Linked DNA regions of Homo sapiens: region 1 is linked to region 2. A link means that fine-mapping ties the variant in region 2 to the expression of a gene that starts in the linked region. Tissue or cell type: whole blood. Region 2 holds a variant in brackets; the other region holds the start of a gene. All regions are shown on one strand. Distances are between the middles of the regions. Region 1 holds the start of PFKP (phosphofructokinase, platelet). Region 2 holds the start of SNORD142 (small nucleolar RNA, C/D box 142).

What was found. PIP is the estimated chance that this variant, and not a neighbour inherited with it, causes the effect.
Region 1: it holds the start of PFKP, and the variant in region 2 is fine-mapped to the expression of PFKP in whole blood (TOPMed, PIP above 0.99).

Annotation. Positions count from the first base shown.
Region 1 is chr10:3,059,434-3,074,826 of GRCh38, reverse strand. It overlaps PFKP (phosphofructokinase, platelet), which reads right to left and starts at 7,279. Exons shown (of 22, transcript NM_002627.5): 1 at 7,120-7,279. The coding sequence starts at 7,231. LOC124902536 (wiskott-Aldrich syndrome protein family member 1-like) reads right to left here and starts at 8,257. Exons shown (of 1, transcript XM_047426132.1): 1 at 7,479-8,257. The coding sequence starts at 8,124. The coding sequence ends at 7,687. It overlaps PFKP-DT (PFKP divergent transcript), which reads left to right and starts at 7,894. Exons shown (of 4, transcript NR_160681.1): 1 at 7,894-8,074. RefSeq lists enhancers at 877-1,378, 6,171-6,240, 11,041-11,991 and silencers at 5,561-5,760, 5,847-6,027, 6,441-6,620, 7,041-7,440, 7,451-7,550.
Region 2 is chr10:3,123,914-3,137,070 of GRCh38, reverse strand. PFKP (phosphofructokinase, platelet) reads right to left here. Exons shown (of 22, transcript NM_002627.5): 17 at 7,088-7,252; 18 at 4,630-4,691; 19 at 3,757-3,868; 20 at 2,489-2,588; 21 at 1,233-1,335; 22 at 269-621. The coding sequence ends at 492. It overlaps SNORD142 (small nucleolar RNA, C/D box 142), which reads right to left and starts at 2,967; the gene lies at 2,773-2,967. RefSeq lists enhancers at 87-586, 587-1,088, 7,343-7,856. The variant A/G (reference allele first, on the strand shown) is at 4,239.

The DNA.
Region 1 (15,393 bases), 63 kb after region 2:
GTCTCGGCACATTCCAGGTGCCATAATGGAATTAATTAATCTCCTATTGATAGTTTTTTGCTGGTTTTCCCACTTTTTGCTATTCTAAGCACTGCTATGAAGATTCTCCTTTAACCCCCACCTGCCTGTGTCTGTTGGAGCTCACATGCTCTACCTTCCAGCTGTAACAGCTGAGTGCCCATTCACCCCAAGCCCTGACACACTCAAGTCTCTGGGTCCCCTTGGCGGGATGTGTCTGTGGACACAGGGCTGCCCTGCCACGTGCCCCACCCCATAACCTTCCATCTGTGGCCTGCTCCTTGTGATACCCTAAACTTGTGGCCTCCCCTCCCCTCCTCTCCTCTCCACAAAGCCACCCTTATCGGAGACAGTCAGTCTGCTTCCCTCCACCTGCTTCCCAGTTCACCCAAGGCAAAGCCAAAGTCCTCCACTGGGCCACTCTCCTCTACGGACTCCTCCCTCACTGTCAGGTCAGGTCAAAGGGCCCCAACCAGAGGTTCCCCTGGGCCCTTTCATAAGACAGGAGCTTTTCCTCTCAGGTCAGGCTACAGGCACGTCGTACCCGCACCTCACCACAGGAGTGACAGCTCCAGGCAGAAAGGGCCTGGTTCTTTTGCCAAAATCCTGTCCTGACTCACCCAAGGCAGTCTGTTAACATGCACAATGATTACAGAAACACAGAAATAAGGCTGGGTGCAGTGGCTCCAGCCTGTAATACCAGCACTTTGGGAGGCCAAGGCAGGTGGATCACTTGAGGTCAGGAGTTCGAGACCAGCCTGACCAACACGGTGAAACCCATCTCTACTAACGATACAAAAAAGATCAGGTGAGCATGGTGGCGCATGCCTGTAATCCCAGCTACTTGGGAGGCTGGGACAGGAAAATCGCTTGAACTCAGGAGGCGGAGGTTGCAGTGAGCCGACATCAAGCCACTGCACTCCAGGCTGGGCAAGAGGGCAAGATCCCGTCTCAAAAACAAACAAACAAACAAACAAAAAAAACACACACACACACAGAAATAAAATCTTAATCGTAGTAAGACACAGCTGAAAAGATATGAAGGACTGACTCCCCGAGGCTACTGCATGCCACCCTTTCAATCATTTTCCATTCAGGAAACTTCGGATCAGATCATTTACATATGTACGTTTAGACAAGGGGTCCTATATTAATGAATCTTCTCTGTCAAAATCCTGGTCAAAGTCAGAAAACAATCCCATGGGACTCCTGGGAGCATCTCACATTGGGGAAACCTGGAGAAGTGGAGAAGCTGATCTGCCCGATTTGCAAACCGCTCCACTGGCCCCAGGGGGTCCAGCAGCACCGGTGCCCTCCCCGTGAGAGTCGGAGCCTCACTCAGACCCACACAGTCAGGATCTACACCTCCGCAGGCTCCCCTAGGCATCTCTGGGCACACGGAGGCTGGGAAAATAGCACACGGGCCCTGGGGTTGGGGGTCCCAGCACAGTCCAGCCTATTCTCTTTTCCTCCTGAACACTTTCACTGTGGATATGTGTTAGGGAAGAGGGGAGGGAAGACAGAGACAGGGAGAGGAGACAGAGACTGAGTGATGCCTCCATTCTGCAGAGGAAAACATCAAGACCCTATCTCAGCACTCAGCACTCAGCACCCTGCTGACCCAGACAGCAGGACCAGGGCTAGGACCTATAAATGTCTCTGCCTCTCAGTGCTCTGGTCTGCCATGTGTCTGGCTGCCTCTTACATCCTGACAAGCACAATGACTGTAATTCCAAACACAGGACTGGGAGTTGGGGGTGAAGACGGAGAGAACCGAGGAGTGGGGAGGGAAACTGTAGCCTTTGGGCAGCTACTCTCTAATAAACAAAAACACAACACCAGAAAGGGCTTGTGGAAAAGAAACACAAAACGGAACCCAATTACTGACATACGGCCCTCTGTTCTATATTCACCCGCACTTTCTTAGCCGAAATGCCATTGTGAACGTGCAATCTGGTATCCTGATGTTTGTCCTGACTACGTTACCGTATCTTCACCTTTCTAATTTTAATTGCTTCTGATGGCCCATCAGATTGGTAGAGCCCTAATTATTTAAAGAGCCTAATTCTCCCTGATAAAAGGTTGGAGTCCTGTATCAAAAGCTTTTAGCTTTCTGTAACCAAGGGGGAAAACATGCTTCTTTCGAAAGATGACAAAATGTCTAGCTTCGAAGGGTCATTCGAGTATGGCACACAAAACGGTCTGCATTCACAGAAAATGATGCCATTACACAAATCTCCCACTGTGCCACATGGTGACACCATCATTCCAACACACTGCCTCCCAGACCCAGTAATTTTTGCAAAATTAATTACTGCACTTTACACTGAAAAGATCCCATCAAATAATGTATGTACACAGGAAGGTAACGGGCCCAGAGCCGTGGGAGGCAAAATGGCGCTGTTCTCAGTTTCCCCTTCCACCCTACTGGGCTCCGAAGCCAGCATTGCTTCAGACACCAAAGGTGCCCATGTGGGGCTCAAGCCTGGTGTCCAATAAATATGTGTGTCATTGACCTAATGCACGTCCAGCCAATGGAAACCTCACACTTCTGACTTCGGTTTTAAGGTTCTAATCTTGAAGTCTTAACAGTTTACACATATTGACCTGAGGATATTGGATACTTTTAATTAGAGAGGGTTGAATTCCTCTAAAGGACTTCATGGACGAAGAAGACAGCTAGAACCCCTGGTTTCCTGCTCCTCAGTGGAGATTCCAGGCAGGAGGCAGGCAGCAAACACTTGCATTCCTGCGAAGCGCCAGGCATGGTGCTGGGCGCGGGAAAGACACCAGTGAAGACGCAGGTACGCGCAGCCCTGAACATCCCTGCTGCAGCCACAGGGCCCGGCCCCACCACGGAGCTCTGTGAACTCAGGGAAGGTGGTGCAACTCAGGCGCCCCTTGCTCATGTGTAAAATAGGGATAAGTCATTGCCCAGGATCACTGAGGCCCTGCCACATAACAAAGAGTCATTAATGCTAGTTATTCTCACTAGGATTGGAAAGGTTTGTACTTACTCAATTTATGTGGACTTTCTATAAATACTGTATTGATATTCACCTCACCACAGGCAAAAAGGACGCAGCTTTCACATGCAGCCTACCCTAAGGATGCACCTGGACTTCCCAGTACACTCAGCTCCACCAGGCACCAGGACCTTCAGAAGCCACAACCTGTGACTAAGACAATGAGTCACTCTTGGTGTGTGGCACAGTGTTCTGTGGCAGTGGGGACTTAGTCATGGTAAGTCCGCCATTCAGAGTTATGGAGCTTATTTCAGATTGAGTGAAAATCAATTTAAGTTTCCAGACATGTCTTGGGACAACAGAAGATACATAAAGAGGCAGAAGAAGAGAAAGAAAAAAAAAAAAAAAAAAAAAACAGCCTGAGACAGAAGATATCCAAGCAAGTAGAAAAAACAAACAAACAAACAAACAAAAACAGCCTGAGAAATACTTTCTTCATTCAAGGCCCGGGGAGTCGGGAATATAGAAAAGAGAAAGAGATTTTCAATTGTATCTTATAATTAAATAATATACACTCTACTGAGAGAAGAAAAAGCAGCCCATCACATAATATCGTTCTTGCCACCTGGACTCCTATCACTATAAAAAGGCATTTTCCGTTCCCCTAACAAAGCCACCCAAAGAATATCTGTGTAATTTTGGGCAAATCGGGTTTTGCTCACTTTTGAGCATTAACTAGATAAAGCAGCTTCACCAAGAAAGGTCCCTGAAAAACATGGTGGAGATGGTGGAGGCCTGACACAATGGCTCATGTCTGTAGTCCCAGCTCTTTGGGAGGCCAAGGCAGGAGGATCACTACAGGAGGCCAGGAGTTCAAGGCCAGTCTCGGCAGCATAGTGAGATCCTGTCTCTACAAAAATAATAATAATAATAATAATAATAATTAGCTGGTCATGATGGTGCATTCCTGTCTTCCCAGCTACTCAGAAGGTTGAGGCAGGAGGATCACTTGAGCCCAGGAGTTTGAGGCTGCAGTGAGCTATGATGGCACCACTACACTCTGGCCTGGGTGACACAGCCAGACATAAGTACTCTTCGTGGTCTACGGGAGAGTACAATATTTGGAATTAAGATCTGTTTTGCTCCTATCACAATCACGTATGCACCTCATGCCCTTACCTAACTTACTTTTCTTTCTGAGTCTTTCTCCCCACTTCCAAAATGAGGACACGCCTCTCTTGGGATCATGTATTTAGGCTTGGAGATAAGAAGTGTAAAGCTCTTAGAATACAAAATGTTTTCAACAAATGGTAGCTATGATCATCTTAATATACGGAATTTTACCATAATTTCACATCTGACAGAAAATTCCCCTGAAATTAATACGTGAATGTGAATATGTTCTCTCATCTCTAGCTACAAGCAATAGTCTTCTATGTCAGGGAAAATCAAGTACTAACATAGAATCAGAATAAAATGGTAAAAGAATGGGGACACTGAGATATTCTCGAGGAATAACCTACTTACTGTAAGGGTTTGTAAATCTGTGGCAGCTAAGACCAGGCCCTCTGAGTACATCTGGAGGTGAACTTCCTTAAAAGAAATGCGTCCAAATGCTCCAACAGGTTCAAGATCGTATCACCGAAGGGTAAAGCTCTTTACAGAGTCTACAAAAAAATTGTGACTTCAGCTCTGCCAGGGAAAGAGTGCCCAGGCGACCCGCCATGGCGGGCTTCCCCAGGGACAGCCCAGGTGTGACCCATGTGGGCTCGAGGCCACCATATTTGATGCCACCTGCAGAGCTGAGGGCAGCTGTCTCCTATTAACCCGAGGTTGCAGCAACCAAGCCGCGTTCCCCACATAATATTGGTTTCCAAAGTATCATTTTCCCCAGAAAAGAAGAGGCGTGGACTTACTAACCTTCAATATGTCTAACTCCTCCCAGGTGGCAAAACCAGGGTAACAGAGAACACCGCGATTCTGCCAATGTATCCTAATCTCACATGCCTGTACACAAACTCCCGCGCATTTTAGCAAGCTTTTGGACATGGAGCTCAAAGGAATGACCCATAAATATTTTCCAATACATGCAGTATCTTAATTTTTTTTCTTTCTTTTTTTTTGTAGACACAGAGTCTCACTATGTTGCCCAGGATGCTCTGGAACTCCTCGGCTCAAGCGAGCCTCCTGCCTCGGCCTCCCAAAGCACTGGGATGACAAGCATGAGCCACCGTACAAGGCCCACAGCACCTAAATTCCAAAATAACCTTGAAACCCTGACTTTCCACCCGCCCTGGTGGCTTCCAGAGATCAGTTCCTCTTCCTGTGCCAAAGGTTTCTTGTCTTTCGCGGCCCAGGTAAGGTCACTCAAGGTGCTCCCTCTGCTTCTGAAGGCCTTTGACTGAGAAGCCACTCTGGGTCCTATCCCGACCCCAAGGCGGCTCCATTCGTACCCGCACATCTCCGGGCCGGTTTAAGTCACGCGGGCCAGGCTATTTCCACTTCACTCTCCTGTTTCTTCAATCCCATCCTCTGCTGCATCACGTTTTCTTTCTCTGAGAACCCAGCCCTGCAGGAAGAACGTTGATGCTGGGGTCCTTTTACTGGAATGCTAACGCCAGAGCACTTCCCGGGGGCGCTGCAGGGCGGGCTGCGGGGCGGGGCCTGGCGCTGCCACCCGGGTCTCCCGCGGGGGGCGCTGGGCCTGGGGAGGCTGCGCTGCGGGCCTGGGGAGCGCGCGGCGCACGGGTGTCGGGGCCGGGGCTCGTGGAGACGACGGGCCGGGCATCACGTAGGCGCTCGTGGCGGGCGGGGCGGCGCCCACAGCGCCTCAACCTGCGGCACCCGCGCCCGCCCCGCGCGCTCAAGGGCGAAGGGAAGGTCACCCGCGCAGTGGGCAGGGGGTGCATCCCCGCTCCAACCCTGTGCAGTGCGCGGCCCCGAAACGGGAGGAAATCCGCCATCCGGGCCTTTCCACGCATCTGCGGCAGGAGGAACCGGGAAAACAAAAATCAAAACCCAGCTCGGGGCGCGCCGCGTCTCCAGCCTGCGCGATCGCTAAGGCTCCCAGGTTGCGTTCGCCTGGGAAGCGCCGATCTACCCGCCAGGGATTGCACGGATCGGGACACTCCATCATCCGGGCACCGGCGCCCCCACGTGCACCCGGGGCCTGGGGCGCGCCGAGTCTCCGCCACCTTCCGCTCTTCAATGTTAAATATCCTCCCGGCGCGCCCGCGTCCGTGGGCCCAGCCTCGGGCCCCTCCTAGAGAGCAGCTTCCACATTGCAGGGCAGGGAAGCCCGGAGCCCGCGCCGCGGCGCCGCTGACATCCCGGAGTCCCCGCTTCCTGATCCTTCCCGTCTGCGGAGGCTGGCGGGGAGGGCCTGGGACCCATTTTGGTTTTCGTTTTTGTCACGAGCCGGAAGGCGACAGCACATGCGAGCGCAGGAAACCCTTTTTAAAAATCTCCCAGCGGAAACGCGAGGGGCTGCCGGACCGCCCTGGAGACGCCAGGCGGGAACCCCGCGCACCCCCGCCGCGTCCCGCATTGCAGCAGCCAGGACCCCGCCCACGCCGCGCAGGGCACGAGGCGACAGGAGGCGCGCGGGGACCCAGCCGTTTCTTCCTCGACATTCTAGGGGGTGGCGTGCGGCGGAGTTGGGGGGCGGGGGGGCACTTAGGAAGTGATCGCGCTGTACCCACGCTTCGGAGGGGACGCCCGGCCCCGTCCTACAGCTCAGAGGCAGAACGACCCCCGAGGGCGCTTCAGGCGACTCCCTCTGCCAGGTTCCATTTAAAACAAAACCGAAGGTGGAAAACTCACTGATCTTCCGGATGGAGGTTCCTACCGCCATGTCCCTTCCTCCCCCGCCCCACCGGGCAAGGACCCCGGGGCTGCCTCGCCGGCTCATGCCGCCCCGCAGGTACCCCTGCCGCTTCCGGGCGCGGGCTTCTTCCCGGTTCTCCCCATCGCTTCCCCGCTCTTCTCCCCGGTTCTCCCCATCGCTTCGCCACCTTTCCCCGGGTCCCCCCCATCGCTTCCCCCCTCTTCTCTCCGGTCACCCCATCGCCTTCGCCCGGTTCTCCCCAGCTCCGTCCGTCCGTCCCTCCCTCGCCGCCGGGAGGGGGGCGCGCACCTTGAGCATCCCCGCCGCTGGTCAGCACGCCGATGGCCTTGCCGGCCCCGGAGAGGTGCTCCAGGAACTTCCGCAAGGAGCCCTTGGGGGCCCGGGAGTCGTCCGCGTCCATGGCGAGGAGGCCGAGGGGAGCCGCACGTCCGGGTGCGCAGCAGGCAATGGGGACCCTGCCCGCGCGCGCCTGACTCGGAACCGCCGCCCCGCCCGCGCCCCCGCCCGGCCCCAGCGCCAATGGGCGGTGACGGGCGGGGCCCGAGCGTATGGGAGGGGCTGCGGGGGAGGGGGCGCGGGCGCGGCTAGGGGCAGGGGCCGGGGCTGGGGCGGGTGTGGGCAGGAGCATCTACGCGGGGGTCGTCGTAGGTGGGGGCCGCGCTAGCGGTGCGGGAGGCGGCAGAGGCAGGGGTAGCGCCACAGGTGGGCGGGTCCCTGCTAGTGGGGCCGCATCGCAGGTGCGCGAGCCTCGCGGGTGGGCTGGAGGACTCTGGTTGGGGGCTCTAGAGATGACGGGAGCGCCACAGGTGGGGCAGGGGCAGCGTCCGGAGGAGGGGAGACCGCAGGGGGCCGGGGTCACATCGTTTGCGGGGCGCGCCAGGGCGGGGCGGGATAGAACGCCGGGAGCATCTCCCGGGGGGGCGAGGGAGACCGTGAGTGGGCGCGAGCGCCGGGGCGGGTGGAAACCCCGCAGTTGCGGGGAGCGCCGATGGCGGGGAGGGGTGGAATGGGGGCGCGGAGACCCCACCTGGACGCGGAGGCTCGCGGCAGGCCCGGCCGCTCGGGCCGTTGTGGGGGCCGAGCCCGGCCGCGCGCACAGCTTCTAGTGGCCCGCAAGATTCCTCCTGGGGCGGCGCTGGGAGCCTCGGGGCTCGGCTTCCTCGACCCCCGCCCCCAGGTTTCCTCTGCAGCCTGAGGTCGGGAAGGACGGACGGAGAGTGGATCCTCCAGGTGGTGGGAAAAGGTGAGCGTGGCGGGCTGGGCCATGACGAAGCTGCCATTTCCCGGGCCCATGGGGGCTGTGGTGCTCCTGGGCCCCCAGCCCCGCCCTTGGGGGGAAGAAGCCGTGGGGTGGAGGAAGGTATCGGGGCGCGACCCTCAGAGACGCCCTGGCGGCGCCCCGGCCTGGGCGCTGGAAAGTCAGAGTGGGGCAGGAGGAGGCGCAACAGGACTGGCCTGGCGGGGAGGCGGGGAGGCGGGAGGACCCTCCCTCCCCACGGACACGCGCGCTGCTGTACGCTCTGCCTGACCTCGGCCGGCTCCACTGGCCAGCTCCACGTACTGAAATACTCACATCCAATGCACTGTGCGGTTGCCCATCCACAGCTTAACAGCCTGGTGCCAGTTACCCTGCGATGGGAGAGGGGGCAGCCCCCATAGAAGCACGGGCTTATGGGACCCGGGTTCCTTCAGTGCTCACCCACGAAGAAGGGCTCCCAAACGGCCCCACTCGACGGCTCACCGGAGGATGGTCCTGCGCAGTGGGTGTTTGTTGAACAGATAAGAGACAACAAAACAGACTAAGAAGAGGCCTGTTCTATGAACCGGGGAAAGTGAAGGAATCACAAAGAGCGGCTCGCCTTAGGGCAATCCTGGGGAAAAGATGGAGAGGCATGGATTTTTCTTGGATGTGTGCCTCATCCTGGGGCTCATCCCTCTGAGCATCAAATATTCATTGCAAAAGAGGGGGAAAAACTCTGCTGCGGACAATGCTGGATGGTCTGATCTCTCCCTTGGCCAGAATTAACGGGGCAATTCCTAACCCCTGTTGGTCCTCAGAATCACCTGGCCTATGCACACTCCCGCTAAACCACTGAAGTCCAATTTCTGGGAGCTCAGCCAGGGAATGTGTATTTTTAAACAAGCCCCCTAGGTTACTCTGATAAGTGCAAAGTCAGAGAGCGCTGCTCTCATGCACTGAGCCTGAGCACTCTTCTATTAATAAAAAAGGAGAGGAGAATCCTGGGTTGGGTGCCCTTCGCCTTCTGGCGGCAGAAGAGCAGAGCCAGGCTCTAAGCACCTGCACCCACCGCTGGGCTCAGGAGCTGCGCTGGAGAATAGAAGGGCTAATTTAGTCATTCATGCCTTTTTAGAGCAAATTACATGTGGAGAGGGTGGGGCACACTGAATTTTATTTTAGCCAAATGCCCCTTATCTCCTTATGCAATTGATATTTTTATATTGAACATTAGAGGATTGGTCATTTGTCATCAAGTCGTCTGTAATACAGAAAACGATAAATACAACCTAACAGTTCAAACATGACGAGTTAAATAAATGATGGTTAAAAATATACGCTGCGATAATATTTAATTGCTGTTACCACTACGAAGATAAGTGTCGACTGACATGGAAATATGTTCAGGTCAAACAAATAAATGAAAAGGCAGGCCTGGACACAGTGTGAGCCTGTGCTTGCATGTGCGCACGTGTGCGTGTAAGTGTGTGTGTGAGTGTGCACACACGTAAATGTTTCTGAGCATTTTATTTCCTTTCTTTTGCTTAGTATAGGTAATGCCATTTTTCTCTCCAATGAACAGGTATTGTTTGGGGAATAGAAATAGTTAATTAAAAACAATAAAATTTAGAGTGTCCAGATCCCCAGGGTTATGGATTATGTTCAAAAGTTTGTCTGTATGTAAGGGCTGGGGTCAGGGTGGTCACTGACCGTCCTCACACATCTATTCTCATGAGTTTGACCCATTGCTCAGTCAGTCAAGGAATTAACATATATTTATATATACCTGTAGCTAAGATGGAAAAGCATAGCTATGGCTCTTTTTTTTTTTTTTTTTTTTTTTTTTTTTTGCAAGTCGTGTATTTTAATGGTGCTACAACTAGAGATTTTTTTTTTGTTGTTTAATCTTTGGCCTGAGCAATGAATCTTCTAATTCAAGAGGAAGATACTGCATGCCTTGTTGACTGTACGGCTTCCACCCAGTAGGACCTGACATGTGTGTTTGTTCTTTATTGTCCCTTGACAGATTACTGCAAACTGTGGCCCACACCAGCACACACTTATACCACAGGAATGATTACTCCTTGGACCAGGAGTTCAGACAGGCTTCACTGGGCCCTCTGCCCCAGGGGCCCTCTGTGGCTGCAACAGGTGTCTGCCCAGGGCTACAGTGTCTTCTGAAGGCTCAGGCTCATCATGGGAGGAGCTGCTTCCACGCTCACTCCTGTGTTGCTGGCAGGATTCTGTTGCTTGCAGGCTGTTGGACTGAAGGCCCCAGTCTGTCCCTGGCATCAGCTTCAGGCTGCCCTCTGCCCTGGGCAGGTGACTGGCTTTGCCAGAACTAGCACATGTCAAGAGCCAGGGGGAGAATTCCAGTGGACGGAACCTGCAGCCCTTCCCAATCCAATCTCAGGAAAGACCGCCGTCTCTTTTGCCTGATTCTGTTCATTAGAAGTGAGCAACGGAGTCCAGCCCTCTTCGAGGATCTGGCTGTGAACACTAGGGGCAGGGGCCACGGGGAGCCACTGGGAGGGGAGGTGCTGCCTGGGACCTGCCTAGGACAAGGTGAAGGAGAACATGCATAGGGACAGATGCCCTTCCCACTTCCCCTCTGCGGTGAGCGCAGGAGCTGCCCATGTGCCCTAAAGGAGTCCTGCCATCCCAGGAGGAAAGCAGCTCCTAGCCATGAGGGCACCATAACCCTGTGTTCCGGCATGTTGGGCTGCACATTCCACCACCAGGGCTACCTGAGCTGCAGCCTCTTCCCTTCCCCTGCTGTTTCTGCCTGTGCATGGAGTAGGCATCTCAAATCTGCAGGGGCCAAACTGAGCTTAGGCCTCTGCACCCCCACGCAACCCCCCACCCCTCGGTCTTCCTCACCTCAGCTCCTGGTGACCCCATCCTCCCAGGGTCTCAGGCTGAAGCCTTGCAGTGCTCCTCTACCCTGGCATCCAAGTCTCTCAGGAAGGTCCCTCCTGGCTCTTCATTGCATCTGGAGCCACTGGGGCCAAGCTACCACCTGTGACCTGGACTGACACAGGCTCCCTCCCCATCCCCTGCTCTGCCCCCACCTCCACCCCACCTCCATGCCTCGGGTGTCCTCAGCTTCAAAGTCAGGGTGCACCTATCAGGATGTAATTCAGGCATCTCCTCTGCTGACTTGGGAGTCACAGGCCCCACACATGGCCCACTGGTCCATCGGATCCTAGTGCTGCCCAGAGACCCATGCAGGCACCCGACAACCTCAGGCCCAGCCTGCTCTTTCCTCAGCCCGGGCCCTCCTCTCCCTACCCACTCTTCCCACCTTCCTCAGGTCTGTCCTGCAAGGTCTCCTGCATGGTGAGGCCTCCCCAGATCACCCTGTTAGAAATTCGGGCTCCATGCACACTCCTGTTCCCTCCCCGCTTCTCTTAAAACAGCCTCATGCGTGTCACACGTGGGGCATTTCACCTATCTGCTGGGCTTCTCGACAGGCCCCCCTGCTGAACTCTGAATGCTGTGGATTCAGAGATCTTTGACTATTCCCTGTTGCAGGCCCAGGGCAACAGCAGAGCCCAGGACAGAGTGAACCTGCCATGGGTGCTGCTGAATGAATGGAGTGAGTGAGTGAAGGAGTAAATGAGTGAATGGGTGAGTGAGTGAGTCAGTGAATGAGTGAGTGAGTGGATGAGTGAAGGAGTAAGTGAGTGAGTGGGTAAATGAGTGAGTGAAATGAGTGGGTGAATGAGTGAACGTGAGTGAGTGAATGTGTGAGTGAGTGAATGGGTGAATGAATAAGTGAATGAACGAGTGACTTAGTGAATAAGTGAGTGAATAAGTGAATGAATCAATGACTTAGTGAATGGGTGAGTGAATAAGTGAGTAAGTGAATAAGTAGTGAATAAATGAGTGAATGAGTGAGTGAGTGACCGAAGGAGTGAATGAGTGAGTGAGTGAATGAATGACTCAGTGAATGGGTGAGTGGGTGAATGAGTGAGTGAGCAAATGAGCCGGTGAGTGAGTGAATGGGTGAGTGAATGAGTGCGTGAACAAGTGAATGAGTGAGTGAACAAGTGAATGAGTGAATGAACGAATGAGTGAATGAGTCAATAAATGAGTGAGTGTATGAGTAAAGGGTGAGTGAATGAGTGAGAGAGTGAATGATTGAAGTGAATGAGTGAGTGAAGAGGTGAATGAGTGAGTGAGTGAATGAATGAATGAGGGAATGAGTGAGTGAGTGAATAAGTGAGTGAATGAGTGAATGGATGAGTGAGTGAAAGGGTGAGTCAGTGAATGGCTGAGTGTGTGAATGAGGGAGTGAGTGAATGAGGGAGTGAATTGAAGGGATGGGTTGCCCCTCCACACCTGTGGGTGTTTCTCATTAGGTGGAACGAGAGACTTGGAAAAGAAAGAGACACAGAGACAAAGTATAGAGAAAGAAAAAGGGGCCCAGGGGACTGGCGTTCAGCATACAGAGGATCCATGCCGGCACTGGCCTTTGAGTTCCCTTAGTATTTATTGATCATTATTGGGCATGGCAGGATAATAGGATAATGGTGGAGAGAAGGTCAGAAGGTAAACACGTGAACAAATGTCTCTGCATCATAAACAGGGTAAAGAAAAAAGTGCTGTGCTTTTGATGTGCATATACATAAACATCTCAATGCCTTAAGGAGCAGTATTGCTGCCAGCATGTCCCACCTCCAGCCTTAAGGCAGTTTTCCCCTATCTCAGTAGATGGAATATACAATCGGCTTTACACCGAGACATTCCATTGCCCACGGAGGAGCAGGAGACAGAAGCCTTCCTCTCATCTCAACTGCAAAGAGGCGTTCCTTCCTCTTTTACTAATCCTCCTCAGCACAGACCATTTACGGGTGTCGGGCTGGGGGACGGTCAGGTCTTTCCCTTCCCACGAGGCCATATTTCAGACTATAACATGGGGAGAAACCTTGGACAATGCCTGGCTTTCCTAGGCAGAGGTCCCTGTGGCTTTCCGCAGTGCTTTATGTCTCTGGGTACTTGAGATTAGGGAGTGGTTTGAGATTAGGGCGTGGTGATGACTCTTAACAAGCAAGCTGCCTTCAAGTATGTGTTTAACAAAGCACACCCTGCACAGCCCTTAATCCATTTAACCCTGAGTTGACACAGCATGTGTTTCAGGGAGCACAGGGTTGGGGGTAGGATTACAGATTAACAGCATCTCAAGGCAGAAGAATTTTTCTTAGTACAGAACAAAATGGAGTCTCTTATGTCTACATCTTTCTACACAGACACAGTAATAGTCTGGTCTCTCTTTCTTTTCCCCACAGTGAATGAGTGAGTGAATGAGTGATCGAGTGAGTGAGTCAATGGGTTAGTGAATGAATGAGTGATTGAGTGAGTCAATGGGTTAGTGAGTGAATGAGTGATTGAGTGAGTGAATGAGTGATTGAGTGAGTCAATGGGTTAGTGAGTGAATGAGTGATTGAGGGAGTGAGTCAATGGGTTAGTGAGTGAATGAGTGATTGAGGGAGTGAGTCAATGGGTTAGTGAGTGAATGAGTGATTGAGTAAGTCAATGGGTTAGTGAGTGAATGAGTGATTGAGTGAGTGAGTCAATGGGTTAGTGATGAATGAGTGATTGAGTGACTGAATGGGTTAGTGAATGAGTGAATGAGTGAGTGAATGAGTGATCGAGTGAGTGAGTCAATGGGTTAGTGAATGAATGAGTGATTGAGTGAGTCAATGGGTTAGTGAGTGAATGAGTGAGTGAGTCAATGGGTTAGTGAGTGAATGAGTGATTGAGGGAGTGAGTCAATGGGTTAATGAGTGAATGAGTGATTGAGTGAGTGAATGAGTGATTGAGTGAGTGAGTCAATGGGTTAGTGATGAATGAGTGAATGAGTGACTGAATGGGTTAGTGAATGAGTGAATGAGTGAGTGAATTGGTTAATGAGTGAATGACTGAGTGAAAGTGAATGAATGAGTGATTGAGTAAAAGGGGGTGAATGAGTAAATGAGTAATGAGTGAGTGAGTGAATGAGTGAGTGACCGAATGAGTGAGTGAATGAATGAGTGAGTGAATGAATGAGTGAGTGAATGAGTGAGCGGGTCGCTCAGAGGAGGTGAGGACCGGAGCTGCCCTCTGACTGCTTCAGGAGACAGGAGCTGAGGGAGGAGCCTGAAGGGTGGGTAGGAGGTGCCCACTCAGTACTTATACCCTGCCTGACACATCCCCAGAGAAACCCAATCTCACCAGAGTGGTCTCTTGAGAATTATCAGTAACAACCTTTTTTCCCAGTATTTCATATATTCAGGGTGATTTCTTACTTTCCTTTAAAATGCCAATTGCTTTTCGGACTTGGAATTCTCCACTGTTGCTCCACGCCACTGTATCTCCCATAGGGGCGTCCCCCGTCATTCCCAGGAATGGATAAAAGCCAGAAGGGCGGCATCAGGTGGGGCCCCTTCTCCTATCATCCTCCCCTTCCTGCTTGCGTTACCCTAAGTGACTTGTTTTGGAAGTCTACAAAACGCAGACACATCAAATTTGGATAAAAGCGTAAGCAATTTAAGAGGTTGCAGTGCTAGCGGGAAGGTCTTTGGCTGCCGGCACCCTCCTCCCCTCCAGACCCTGCTGGACCCAGGACTCTGACTCTGCCTTCGGCCTTGGGGGTTTCATTCCTTCTTTCCTTGCCAGCCACTGAGCTGCCTTGGGCTAATCTGCAACCACAGAGGGGCAACCATCCTCCTTTCCTCTTGCCTCTTCCTCCCTTCTTCTCACTTTCCTTCTGCTTCTTTCGGGACTTTGGAAAGTTCAAGAATAAGCAAAACTGTAGATCAGAAAACGCTGCCTTCAGCCTATTCTCCTCCCACCAGCTTCCCTGCAGATTCTTTGATCTTTAAAAAGTATTTTGCTTTGTATCTAGATGCTAAACTTTATATAGAAAACAGGTGGGGTTGGTTTCTCGGCCGGGTACAGTGGCTCACACCTATAATCCCAGAGCTTTGGAGGCCAAGGCAGGAGGATTGCTTGAGGTCAGATGTTTGAGACTAGCCTGGGCAACATAGGGAGACCTCGTCTCTACAAAATCCAAAAAAATTAGCCTGGAGCGATGGCACACCTGTAGTCCCAGCTACTTGGGAGGCTGAGGCAGGAGGATCACTTGAACTCAGGAGTTTGAGATTACAGTGAGCTATGATTACATCACTGCACTCCAGCTTGAGCAACAGAGTGAGACACTATCTCCCAAAAAAGTAAAAATAAAAAGTGCTGGAGTCCATATCGAAGCCCACAGCCAATTGTGACATGTGAATCTTTTATTTTTATAATCTGCCTCTCTTGTCTAAGTGCCAAATGATGCT
Region 2 (13,157 bases):
AGGAGCCTGGGGTCGAGGCCCAGGGTCCCGGCCTGCTGCTGTGGATGGAAACTGACACATGGCAGATATGGAATGGTGAGTAAACGTGGCCTTCCCCTTGGCCTGTGTGAACTCCTGGCTTTGTTCTCCTTGTATGACGTGTGCATAGTTCAGTGATCCCTATAAAAATATTTTGCTAATCTTTGCCCACAAAACTGAGAAAACCTTTAGTAGCCACCCATAGATTGAGGTACTAATCTCCTACTTAAAAAACTAAAACAGAGGACTGTTGGAGTCATAGGCAAATGTTTAATTAATTCTGCTCATATGCACATCTGAAAGCATGAGACACACTCCACAGACAGCACGCACTGGAGCAGGTGGGGCAGATGGGCACTCGCCGATTAGGTATTAATGTCAATAATACGTGCATAAAGTGCTGATAAAATAACTTAAGTGTTACAAAAACAGACAGTCCACGGTGGCTGCAGGCACATGCAGGCGGGACTGGGTCAGACACTCCAGGGCTGCACATGTTCCAGCTGGCCTGAGTCCGACACGTCATAGCTGGCCTTGTACTTGGCCAGGATTTTCATGAGGGGCCGTAGCTTGAGCCACCACTGTTCTTTGGGAATCCTGTGCCTGTGGAGGTAAGAGGAGACAGCAGTGAGGCCTGCAGTCACTGGCGGGAGATGCCTCCGCCTGGCCAGCACAGCGAGCGGTCTTGCCAGAAACACAGGGTTTGTAGGGTCGGCTGAATCAACTAGATGATAAAGCCAATTTCAGGATCAAATGAAACCATTGTTTAAAATTATTCCCGAAGACCCAGTGGTGGAGTCTCGCTCTGTCGCCAGGCTTGAGTACAGTGGTGCAATCTCAGCTCACTGCAACCTCTGCCTCCCGGGTTCAAGCGATTTCTCCTGCCTCAGCCTCCTGAGTAGCTGGGACTACAGGTGTGCATCACCATGCCTGGCTCATTTTTGTATTTTTAGTAGAGATGGGGTTTCACCATATGAGCCAGGTTGGTCTCGATCTCTTGACCTTGTGATCCACCTGTCTCGGCCTCCCACAGTGCTGGGATTATAGGCATGAGCCACCGCGCCCAGCCAAGACCTAGTATTTTTTTAACTGAGCTTCAGAAAAGCCAGTTCCTCAAACCCCTGAATGAGTTGCCGACAGCAACAGCAATGGCCATTCCCCTGTCCCGTACTCACATTGGGGTCTTATTGCCTCAGGGAACCCAGCCAACTTACTCAAAATCCGTTTGCTTCTTCAGCTCTGCCACAGGTTGAAAAATAACGTTTCTTTTGCTTATTCCCAGCACACAAATGGAATCATCGGTGGTAAATTTTTTTCCTATAAAAGATTTTAAAAAAGATTAATAACACCCTGTCAACATGGGCAGGTGGGGGAGCAGAATCACGGGGCGAGATGAGAACTGAGATTCCTCAGAACCATGCTGAACCCGGCCTGGAAGCCCAGTGAGACTGAGAACAGCCGCGCAGTGGGGCCAGCACCTGGCCTCGTGCAGCTCTGCTCCTGTGGGACTGCCCCGAGGGCTTCCTGGAAAGCAGCTTTTGTTTTTTCCTCCCAGTGGAGAGAATTTTTCACTAAATAGTGGAATAGGGAAATTAGCTTAAATTACAGGACACTAATTTATGCTCACACATACACACACTGAGAGGCAAAAAGCATCCATAGCTAAATTAGCAAAAGAAAATCGCTGTAGAAAGAATCAAAGCCAAAGTCAGTTCTTCAAAAAGACAAACCCATTGAAACTATTCACATCACTGGTTTTTATAGACTGTCATTTTTCTAAGTTGGACACTGGCAGTGATAGTGGTTTGCCGGAATAAAAGCACACATCTGCTATGACTGATTAAGAAAGCTGAGGGGGGTGGGGGTGAGAAAGATGCTGGCACAAAGAGCCACTCAGGAATGAGTGGGGAACAGCCATGTTGGAGCCATTAACAAGAGTATTATAAAAAAGTCATGTTTCTTGAAACTTCAGTTTAAAGATTTCTTAGAATATGTAACTTACAGAACTGATTTAAGGAAGAACATGCACAGTTCTACGAACATGCAGTTCTACAAACATGAACAATTCATTCAGCAGTCAGATCTTCCTCAAAACTGGAAGTTTTGATGGATAGTCACAAGGAGGTTGTCCTAGCAAACATTCAAAAAATAGAAGGCCCCACTTAAACTGTGAGGGGAAATTGCTGGCCAACGTTCAGGATCTCTAGAGCAAAAAGCCTGCACAAAAGAACTGCAGACTGCATCTAGCAGTGATAAAAGAGAACATGTCATACCCAAGCTGATCTTATCCCAGGAATCCAAGGTTGGTTAAATAGCAACACTCAGAGATCAGGAGTAAAACATCACGTGCAGCTCAGTACTGAACTGAAGAAGGAACCAGCACCCTACTTCTCCCCGATAGGACAGCATTTTCACCAAGGCAGGACGGCCTGCATCACGAGGCTGTGGCCTCCCTCCCCAGACCCCTTACCTCTGCCCCGGGCCTCCTTGAGTTTTGCAGTGATCCACTCCATAGCTCTGGCAGAGATTTTGGTTCCAAAGTTTCTATCAAATGGAGAGGGTGCCCCACCCTGTTGGTGGTTAGAGTTATATGAAATACCAGTTATACAGTAACACTTTGCTGTTAAATAGAAATGACAATTTCTATTTTGCAGAATTCATGTTTTTATTTCTAGGTCCTTATAGTTGGAACAGAACAAAACCTGTGATTCCCGTAGCCTGAACTTGGCCTGTTAAGAAAAAGTATCAAGTGTTCCCCCCGCTCAGTAAGATGAGGATTTTAATAAACCGAACAAGTCAACTAACAATCTTCATTATTTTAAAATCTTAAATCAGGATTTCATGAACTCATCTGAGCTGGGGATGGGTCACAGCTTTAATCTGATAACCGTTGTGGATTCTTTAAGAAGATCACACATATGCCTACTATTTCATCATCATTGCAGGGGATTCATGGGCTCTGGCTTAAAAGTATAAGAATAGGAGGTGGTGAGGAAGGAGTGTGTGCAAGTTAGGAGGCCTGGACCCTGTGTCCCAGGCTCAGCTCATAACACGTGTGTGCCTGTGTGCAGCTCATTCCAGGTCATTCTGACTTGGGGTGTCAAGTATACTACATGTCTGATAATCCATTTTAAATCTTAGGGAAGCTCCAGTTTTTAACTTGATGAAGTGTTTAATTTGAATAAGCATTTCCAAGTAATGGGGGTATCACTGTTTTCATGAAAGCTGACAGTTCCCTTAAAATCCCCATTACTCAAACCTCACCAACAAAAGAATCCTAAAGCTGGTGATGTTTGGCATCACTTAAAAGTTCAGATGTTTTGGCTGGGCACAGTGGCTCAGGCCTGTATTCCCACCACTTTGGGAGGCTGAGGTGGGTGAATCATCTGAGGTCAGGAGTTTGAGACCAGCCTGGCCAACGTGGTGAAACCCCATCTCTACTAAAAATACAAAAATTAGCTGGGTGTGGTGGTGGGTGCCTATACTGCCATCTCCTCGGGAGGCTGATGCAGGAGAATCACTTGAACCTGGAAGGTGGAGGTTGCAGTGAGCCAAGCTTGTACCACTGCACTCCAGCCTGGGCAACAGAGCAAGACTCTGTCTCAAAAAGTTCAGATGTTTTTTATCATCTTGGAATTTACTTATACATTTTTCCCCACAATGGCTAAAATAAGACACTAATCTTTTAAAAGTCACATGACAGGGGCTTTGTGGCCCCTCATGCAGTCTCGGGCCTACCTGCTGCATGTGACCCAGCACGTTCTTCCTGCAGTCAAACACGCCTTTGCCCTCTTCTGAATACAGCTGGTAAATGAAGTCGGTGGTGTAGTTTTCACTGCAGCTCTCATTTCTGAAACGAGCGAGAAGGAGTCACTTTGTTTAGCGTGCAGTGGGCACGTGGCTCCCTGCTTGGGGAGATGGCCCTGGGAGGCTGGACTCCCGCATCCCCCAACCCTATGGTGATTCTACATCAACACCAGTCCCTCCAGTTCACGGTTTTGCTTTCTGCAGTTTGTTACCCATGGTCCAGTGGTCAACTGAGGCCCACAAATATTAAATGGAAAATTCCAGAAATAAATATGTAAGTTTTAAATTGCACACCATTCTGAGTAGCGTGATGAAATCTCGTGCTCTCTTGCTGTCCCACCCAGAACGTCAATCATCCCTGTGCCCTGCATCTCCATGCTGTCTGTGCCTCCTGCCCGAGTCACTCAGTAGCC[A/G]CCTTGGTTATCAGATGGAAGCAACCTCGTGTATACAGGGGGCGGGTACTATCCCCAGGTTCAGACACCCACTGCAGTCTTGGGACACAGTCCCTGAGGCTAAGAGGGATGACTGTATTTCCTTCTTTCTTCATAAACATCAGGTGCTAATTAGGGAAATGATTGCAAGATATCAAAGAATAAGAGACTATAAAGCAAAAATATTAGTTGTCTAAATGCAGGCAAGCCTTTAGAGCAATGCACCACAGCTGTCTTCTGCACCTGCTCAGTGTGTGTAGTGCACTCTAGCGGCAAAGAAATGACCACTCATCCAGCCCAAGTCACAGACTAGAATCTAAGAACCAGGGTGTGGCGGTGAGGGTAAGATCAGCCCCTGGTCTCTCTCTCTCACCTGAGCACAAGGCCTCTCTGGATGGTGGTCTTCATTTTCTCCGTCAGGTGCTCCACGTTGGACTGGAAGAGAGTATTTTGTTAATCAGACAATAAACTTCTACTAAGTACCTACTGTGTGCCAGGCACTGCAGGCTGGGAAGTGCCAACCAAGTGTGGCAGTGAGCGTGGCCAAGGAGGCTGCAGCTCTCGCGGCTTGGGTCTTGGGGAGCCTCCTCCCAGATAGGGAGGACACGTCTGCAGCGATGAACGCTGAGGACAGGGCACGGTGAGCAGCCCTCACGGCGGCCACTAGCAACACCTTCCAGAGTCAACAGGGTCCCTCTGAAAATGGTAATTCCGTGCTTTGCCTAGTGATCATTCATGGCTCTATTGCTCCTTGTTTATTTGCATGACGATGTTCTCGGTGCTCTCAGAGGAAAGAGTGACCTGTGGCCTTTCTATGGAATCTCATGTGACGGCCTGATGAGCAGTGTCTGACCAAAGAATTTTGTAGACTCACATTCATACACAGATTTCTTAAGGAAAAGATGGTCTTAGAGTAAGAACATCCCCATTTCAGATCATGTTAGGAGGATTACAAGAGGGAGGTAATTCTCTAATGATTCATCCTAAGAAAATGGAGGTTTTTACATCTAATCAAATCTGTCACTGGGCGCAATGGCAGAATTTCACAAAGTAGGAGGCCAGGCATGGTGGCTCATGCCTGTAGTCCCAGCACTTTGGGAGGCCAAGGCGGATAGATTGCCTGAGGTCAGGAGTTTGAGAGCAGCCTGGCCAACATGGTGAAACCCCCGTCTCTACTAAAAATACAAAAAATTAGCCAGGCGTGGTGGCAGGTGCCTGTAGTCCCACCTACTTGGGAGGCTGAGGCAGGAGAATTGCTTAAACCCAGGAGGCGGAAGTTGCAGTGAGCCGAGATTGTGCCACTACACTCCAGCCTGGGTGACAGAGCGAGACTCCATCTCAAAAATTAAAGCAAAAAATAAAAATCTGTCATAATTTCTCTTAAGCCCTTGCCATGCTGAGCGCTGGTGAGGCAGGATCTTTGGATAGATTTCTGAAATACGGTCATGAGTCATGTAACAGGGGGATATGTTCCTTGAGAAATGCATTGCTAGGTGACTTAAGCCTTGCGCAAACATCCTACAGTGAACTCACACAAACCCAGGAGGCAGAGCCTGCTGCACACCTGTTGTTCCTGGCTACAAACCTGAATGTCTGGGACTGTTGAATACTGCAGGCAATTGTGTATCTAAACATGTCTAGATGTAGAAAAGCACAGTAAGAGATACATATTTTTTGATAAAAAACATCTTTTTATAAAATATATATTATAAAAATATATGTAAAAAGATATGTTTTTATAAAAGATAAAAAACTGCACCTGTTTGGGGCAGCTCCATTATAATCTTATGGGACCCACTGTTGACAGAAACATCATGATGCAGTGAATGACTCCACAAATATTTGACATGGTAAAGAAATTCGTGATTCACATGTCACATAATTAGTGCCAAGGCCCTTTTTACTTGATCTATTTGGCTCAGAAACAAGTAACATCCTAACTTTTTAAAAGACAATGGTGCTGGGCGCGGTGGCTCATGCCTGTAATCCCAGCACTTTGGGAGGCCGAGGTGGGCAGATCACGAGGTCAGAAGTTTGAGACCAGCCTGACCAACATGGTGAAACCTCATCTCTACTAAAAATACAAAATTAGCTGGGCGTGGTGGCACGTGCCTGTAATCCCAGCTACTTGGGAGGCTAAGGCAGGTGAATCGCTTGAACCTGGGAGTTGGAGGTTGCAGTAAGCCGAGACCACGCCACTGCACTCCAGCCTGGGTGACAGCAAGACTCCCTCTCTAAATAAAGACAATTGTTCAAGTTGCATTTTATCTGCCAAGGCCTGTCATCTTGCATGAAGTTTAGCAACTTTGAATGTTGCAGGGTCCAGGCCTGGATTCTGCTGTGTCGTCCAAGCAGGGGCAGACCGCGGGGTCAGCGACACCCTTCCCTAAAAGAGCCACAGATGCCGAGAAACCACGGTCATGTCTGTGTCCGTTTAGAGGCAGACGCAGCATCAGGGGCCTCAGGATTTAAAAGAAGCTGCAGCAACCTTCAGAGCCTGTCGCAGACGTGGGTGGTGACTGTCAGCGGAGGTTCTCAAATCATTGGTGACATAAGTGAGACAACATTAACTACACAACAGACTATGTCAAACAAACAAGCTTGTGTTTCACACATGAGACTAGAAGGTGTCCTCAACCAGGCACACCCACCGTCACCTGACACGCAGTAGGGGCACCTGGGCGATGCGAAGTGTATCAAGCGTGGCATGTTCTGTAGCATCTCCATCTCCATGCCCCTTGGAAAGCAAACCACCCTAGACACGATGATTCACTCCGCAGCACCCAGTGGATCCCAAGGGGACGGGCCCTGAGGCCAGCCCCGTCACATACCTGCAGATCCCTGATGTCGAAGGGCTCTTCGAAAATGTATGCGGCATCAGCTCCGGCCGCGAGCCCCCCCATGTTGGCCAGGTAGCCACAGTAGCCGCCCATGGTCTCGATGATGAACACGCGCCGCTTGGTTCCGCTGGCGGACTGCTTGATGCGGTCGCAGGTCTGGTCACAGAGAAGCGATCAGTCACTCCAGCCCAGGCCCGGGGCGCGCCCACCATCCCAGAGCTCCCCCAAGAGTGAGTGCAGCAAGGCCCCCCCACCGCGCCCAAACATGCGGTCCCAGCATCCCGCAGAGGTGAAGGGTGTGCAGCAGCCAGGATGTGCCCTCGGAGTGGGTGTGAACGTGGTCCCCCGCAACCCCACCATGGCAGCCACCTGGAGGTGACCTCGATGTCCCGTTTTGGGGGCCTGGCCATCTGCCGCTCCCTTCTCCCAGGCCCCATAGAAGGGGACGGAAAAGACGACCCCACAAGCCAGCTCACTCCACGCTGCTCTGTGACTGTCCCTGCTGAAGCCGCTTTCACCGGACACAGACACCGTTAGGTGTTAGCTGAGATGTTAGGGGACTGTCCCCTGCCAGCTTAGTCCGTGAGAACCGCTGTGCTATTCTATTTTCTTCTGAAAAGCTCCCTGTGATTTTAGAGGTGCGGCCATCTTCCATCCATTGGCGAATGTTACATTTATGGAAACTCTACTCAAAGGCAGATGGTGGTTCTTAGACCCAGGCACCTGGGGAAGTCTTCCAGATGCACAGGCATCGGATCCCAGAGTGAAATGTCTGCCATCCGCCCTCCATGAGGACCCAAGCTCGGCGGGGAGAAAAATGGCAAAGAAATGCATCGGCCGCCTTCCCACCCATACATCAGTCCGGCTGCAACGCCCTCTTCCTGGGCCTCAGCTCCCACCCCGGGACCCTCCAATCCGTTCACACAGAAAGGACCCCATCTATAAAAAACATAAATCTGATCCAGTTCTTGGTTTATTCAAAACCCTTTGCTCACTTCAAGTACACATCAAGCCTTTGTCGGGAATCCCCGGCCCCGCCTGCTCCCGGCACCAGGTCCTGTTCCAGCCACCCCAGGTCCTCCTGGGGCCTTTGGATATGCTGGCCGCTGTGTGCATCACATTCCGGCACAGTGGTGGGCGGGAGAGCAGCCCCCAAAGGAATCCCAGTCCTATCCCTAATCCCTGGAACCTGGGAATGCTCCCTCATGCGGTGATAAAGGTGAATCCTAGGAGTACCCAGGTGGGCCTTAAATGCCATCACCTGCATCAGCAGATGAGGGGCGCAGAGGCTGAAGGCCCTGGAGCGGGATGCTGCACACCCACATGGAAGGAGGAGGCGCCAGGGAACAAGGCGTACAAGGCGTGCAAGGCCCGCAACTCTGGGCACCTGAACGGGCCACGAGGGACGCTCCTGGAGCAAACATTCTGGCCTCAGCCCATGGCTCCTGCGCTCCAGAGCTGTGGGAGAGAGTATTATTTTCCAGCCCCAGGTGTGTGGTCAGTGTCACAGCGGCCACGGGACACACAGAGGCACCTTCCTCAGCTCTGATCCAGAGGAAAATGTCATTTCCTCAGGAAAACACCACCTGGTTTCTAGGACCACAAAGTTCCCTCTGTCAGGGGCTCTCGGAGCCACCCCATGTCCTCTCTTCACAGAAATTATCCCGGTGTCTCTCCCTGCAGTTACCTTGTGGTTATTTGACTTGGGAGGATCTTCCTCACTAGGCTGCAAATTCCATGAGGACAGGAACTGTGGGCTGGGCTTACACCAGTGCACCATCAGCAGCACCCGGCCGAGCCCCCACAGCAGGCGCTCAAGAAATGCTTGTCTCTGAATGACATAAGCATGGTATTCCCCAGCCAGCCGTCCGTCCGTCCTGGTCAACGGCTGATCCTGCAGGATTCCCTAATGGGCCTCCATGGGACTCAGCCAAGAGTAAGAGCATGAAGTGGGGGTGTGGACTTGAGACTAGGAGCCACGTGAGAGTCTGTGCACCCAAGTTTAACACCCATTGGGAAATGTTCACTTGAGCACTTCGGATGAAATCTAAAAGTGCACTTTGATTAATAAATGCAGGCTTGATTAAATGATTCCAAACTGTATTTCCAGTTTCTTTGGCAGATTCTTTTCTTCCCAAAATAATTGGTTGATGTATTCAAAACTGAACACGGACTCTAGTTAGCGGGCCACTTTGCATTGTGTAGAAGCCGAGATGGGGAGAGAAACAGGCAATGGGAAGAATTCCCATCTTTGTGCTTAGGAGGACAGAGGACAGATCCCCGTCAAGGGTCCAAAGAGCCCACAACTGCCTTCTTGAAGGGCCAGTGCAGAATTCTGAGGGTTGCACTGTTCCACCTGTACCGGGTCTCTCTAAATGTGATCTAAGACTTAAGACGCTGTAAGGCTTTAAGACTTCTCCTTTGTCTTAGAGAATCCCAGGCACGGGTGGGGCCTCAGGACCCCCAGAGGCACAAAACCTCATGGGTTACTTTTCCAACTGAATCTCCCCCGCAGCCCACCCTGAGGTGGGGAATTACTGTCACTCATTCAAAGAATGACATCAACCGCTTAATGGCAAAAGAATTCTGCGGGCAAAGCAGCTCTCCCAAGAGGCTGATTTGTGCCCAGGCGTGTCTGAGTTCTGGTCCCGCCAGGCTGCCCCAGGGGGCTGTGGAACAGCGCAGCCCTGACACCTGAGCCACGCCCCCGACTGTGTGCTCGTCTCAGTGTAAACGCAGCGACAGCTGGTACGGAAGAGGCCGCCTTTGCTGGAGCTTAGATACAGCTTTCCTGAACTCTCTCCTCATTACCTAGATGGCATCTGAAGCCTGAATTAGCTTCTAAAAATAGCAAGTCACTCCGGCCGTGCCTCAGGCAATTAGTCAAAGCAGCACTGACAAGAAGGCGGCAGATCCCAAGCGCGGCCCTGCCTGCCTGCAGTGTGGCACGGAGGTGCCTCCCTGGCCTCCGAGTGGGTGGAAGGATGGCAGAGGGCTGTGTCCCAGGGCTGGCACGTGGACAGCAGCTGTGAGTGGCACTTGTCAGGCAAAGCCTGTGACCTCAGCCGTTCCCCCTGCACGATGGGATGTGCCCCCAGCAGACGCCACCCCCTGCAAGGACGCAGAGGCGATCCTGCTGCTGAGAAATTCCCCGAGGAGTCCCATGGGAGCGAGAGCCCCAGGCTACAGTTCAAACATCACCACACTTTGCTCCATGGGTGTTAAGAAATATAAATTGGTGGTGAAAGAAAAGGTGGCGTTTGCTACAGCATTAACGTAGAAAAAAGCCACTGACTTCTCTGTGAGAACCACCTTGCTCTGTGAATCTGCAGGGAGGCCAGTTTTCCCATGACTGGTATCCCTCACGGCAGCCGAGCCTCTGCTGAAGTCGGTGGCCAGACGGGACAGGGGGTGGGGGTCCTGTCCCTGCTACAGCATGGAACCCGCAGCAAAGCACAGCTGCTGGCCAGGGTAGGGCTGCGTCGCGTGTGGGGCGCGAGGGTGGAAGTGTGCATGGACATCTACAAGGTGCTAAAGGAGAGTGAAGCCAGCGATGGCCGGACCCTAATGGCATTCACCCAACAGGGGTCAAGTGCGGGGCCCAAGGAAGTCCTGGGAATGAGCCAGGGCCAGCCTCTGCAAGACCACCACAGCACTGGGGAACACAGGGAGAAGCCTAGGAGAGAGATGGCCAGGACACGCCCCTCAGCTCGAGTGGGAGGCTGAGGCTCGGACTCACAGGAAGCTGCAGCCGACCTCATGGCTCCTCTGCTCCCTTCCCTGCACTGTAACTCAGCTCTGAAGGAAGTACCCGGAATAGAACTGCTGTCTTCCGAGGTTCTGTGCTAAGCTGAACTAAGGAGTCTCCAGCAGGACTGGGAGTTTTCACTGCAAACTCCGGAGCTGGCTTGGACGTCAAGATGTAAGGTAAAGGCCAGTGGCTGCTGTCCCCGCACGCGATGCAGGCCTACCCCGGCCAGCAGTTCTGCTTTGCTGTGGGTCCCTCGCACCAGGTGGCCAAGTCACGGACGTGACCCCACATGTCACGGTGGCCACCGTCCTGTCTGCAGCTGAGTGAGGACCGTCTCTGCAGCAAAGGCCTGTGGAACTACCATAGGTCTTCATGTCCAGCTTATGACCATAGAGGTAGGTCAGAGTATCAGGGACCGGAGGGGCCACCATGTGGGTGTCAGCACCACACCCACGACTGGCAGAATCCACCCCTCCCAAGGCACATGTTGGTGAAACCGCCTGCCCAGGAGGGCGTGATTTCGGCTCTCTAAAGAGCCTCTTGTCTCACCAGGAAGGCTGTTTTCCAGGCAGCGGCCCCCAGTGGGTACGGCTCTGTCCTGGAGCTCGTACTTACCGGGCATTTACACCCCTTCCTGCAGGCTCCCACAGCTGGCCCTGCAGCCTCACTACTCAGCGTGGGCAGGAGAGGCAGCCTCCAGAGCAATGGTACCTGCGGCTCCCCTAGTCTAGGTGGGATAGAAACACGATCCCAAGGACTGGATATATCATCTCACTTTTAATCAATAAAGACAGGCTCTCCCTAAGGCAGAGAAGCTAAAAAAATTTTACCCTGTTCTGGCCAGTGTGACATAAAGCCAAGCTAACAAAGGGGAGAAAAGAAGAAGAATAAATCCGGCTCATCCTTAGCACAGAAGAAACAAGTTGCTAAAATAAATGACGGAAAAGCAATGAGAGGAAACGGGGTTCTCTTACCTCAACAACAGCATTCAGGCCAGTGTCGGAGCCCAGGCTTATTTCTGTGCCTGGGACATTGTTGCTAATCGTGGCCGGCACCACACACAGGGGGATGCAAAGCTCCTGGTGGCGGCCTCGTGCCTCGGCCATGTCGCACGCACTCTTGTAAGCCTGAAGCAGCAGGGCCAAGCGGTTAGCGGGGGTGCCGGGTGCTCACCTGCCAGCCCCAGGGCCTGTGCTGAGGTCCAGGAAGGGACGGGAGGGGACTGAGTCACCAGGGGAAGCCGGTTCATGCGGGTCAAGGGGCCGAGGGAGGCTCTGGAGGCCGTGCGAGAGCAGCACAGGCCCCAGCAACACAGGGGGCCGCCTGGGCACAGCCCAGGTCCTCATGAAAGGGGGTGCCTGCAGGCAGCACAGCGGGGTGGTGTGAGGCAGGCAACGGAGCAGGTTGCAGGCAACGGCGAGTTAGTCACGAGTGGGACAGCTCAGCTCTCGGCGTGTCATGGTAGGTAAGGGAGGCCAGGGCAGTCAGGACACTTAAAGGCAAAGCCAATCCTGTAGCTTTCTGCAGGCAGGCAAGGATCAGTGGGATGGGGCACACGGCTGTAAGGACCACACCAAATGCCCGCCTTCATCGTGCAGAGGCGGCGCCCAGGTGCAGGCAGGGAAGGGGGCATGCAGCTGGATTACCGGTGGGCCACACTCAGCCCCACGCCACATCTCTGCTCTCCGGGCGGAAGCTGCCGTTTCTGCCCTCGGCAAGCCGCACACAAAGCCGCACAGGCGAGCAAGAACCTGAGTTGCTGCTCTGGGGTTCCACTGGGAAATGCGCTCCGGTATCAGAAAGGGGAGCGGTTCTTGAGCCCGTGTACACCGGGGTTTTTCAGACTCCACCTCAGGGTGTTAACCAAAGTCACAGCAGGACAGGTCCACACGCCCACTGTTCCCACCTCCAAGTGGCCCCACACAGCAAGGTGTTTTTGACATCCACGTGGTGGCAAAACCAACTATTTATGGTCTTGGACGTGTCCGTCTTACTGTGAATATCCCCACATCTGCTGCAGAAATGCTACTGGTGGGACACAGGGCGGCGCCCACACCTCCCTGGGAGAGTCGGACAGTGAGCGATCTGGGCTCTGCAGCCCTGGTGCAACGCAAAGCATCCCAAGGCCTGGAGCCCGTGTGGGCCGAGGGCTTCGGACAGTGGGTGTAGACCCGTGGCAGGTGAGTTCACAGCACGGTGGATAGGAGGGTGGGGCGGGTGGGTCAGTGCTGGGTGACCACAAGGCGAGCTGTGAACGGGGTCAGTGCTGGGTGACCACAAGGTGAGCTGTGAGCAGGGTCCCCCGCACCC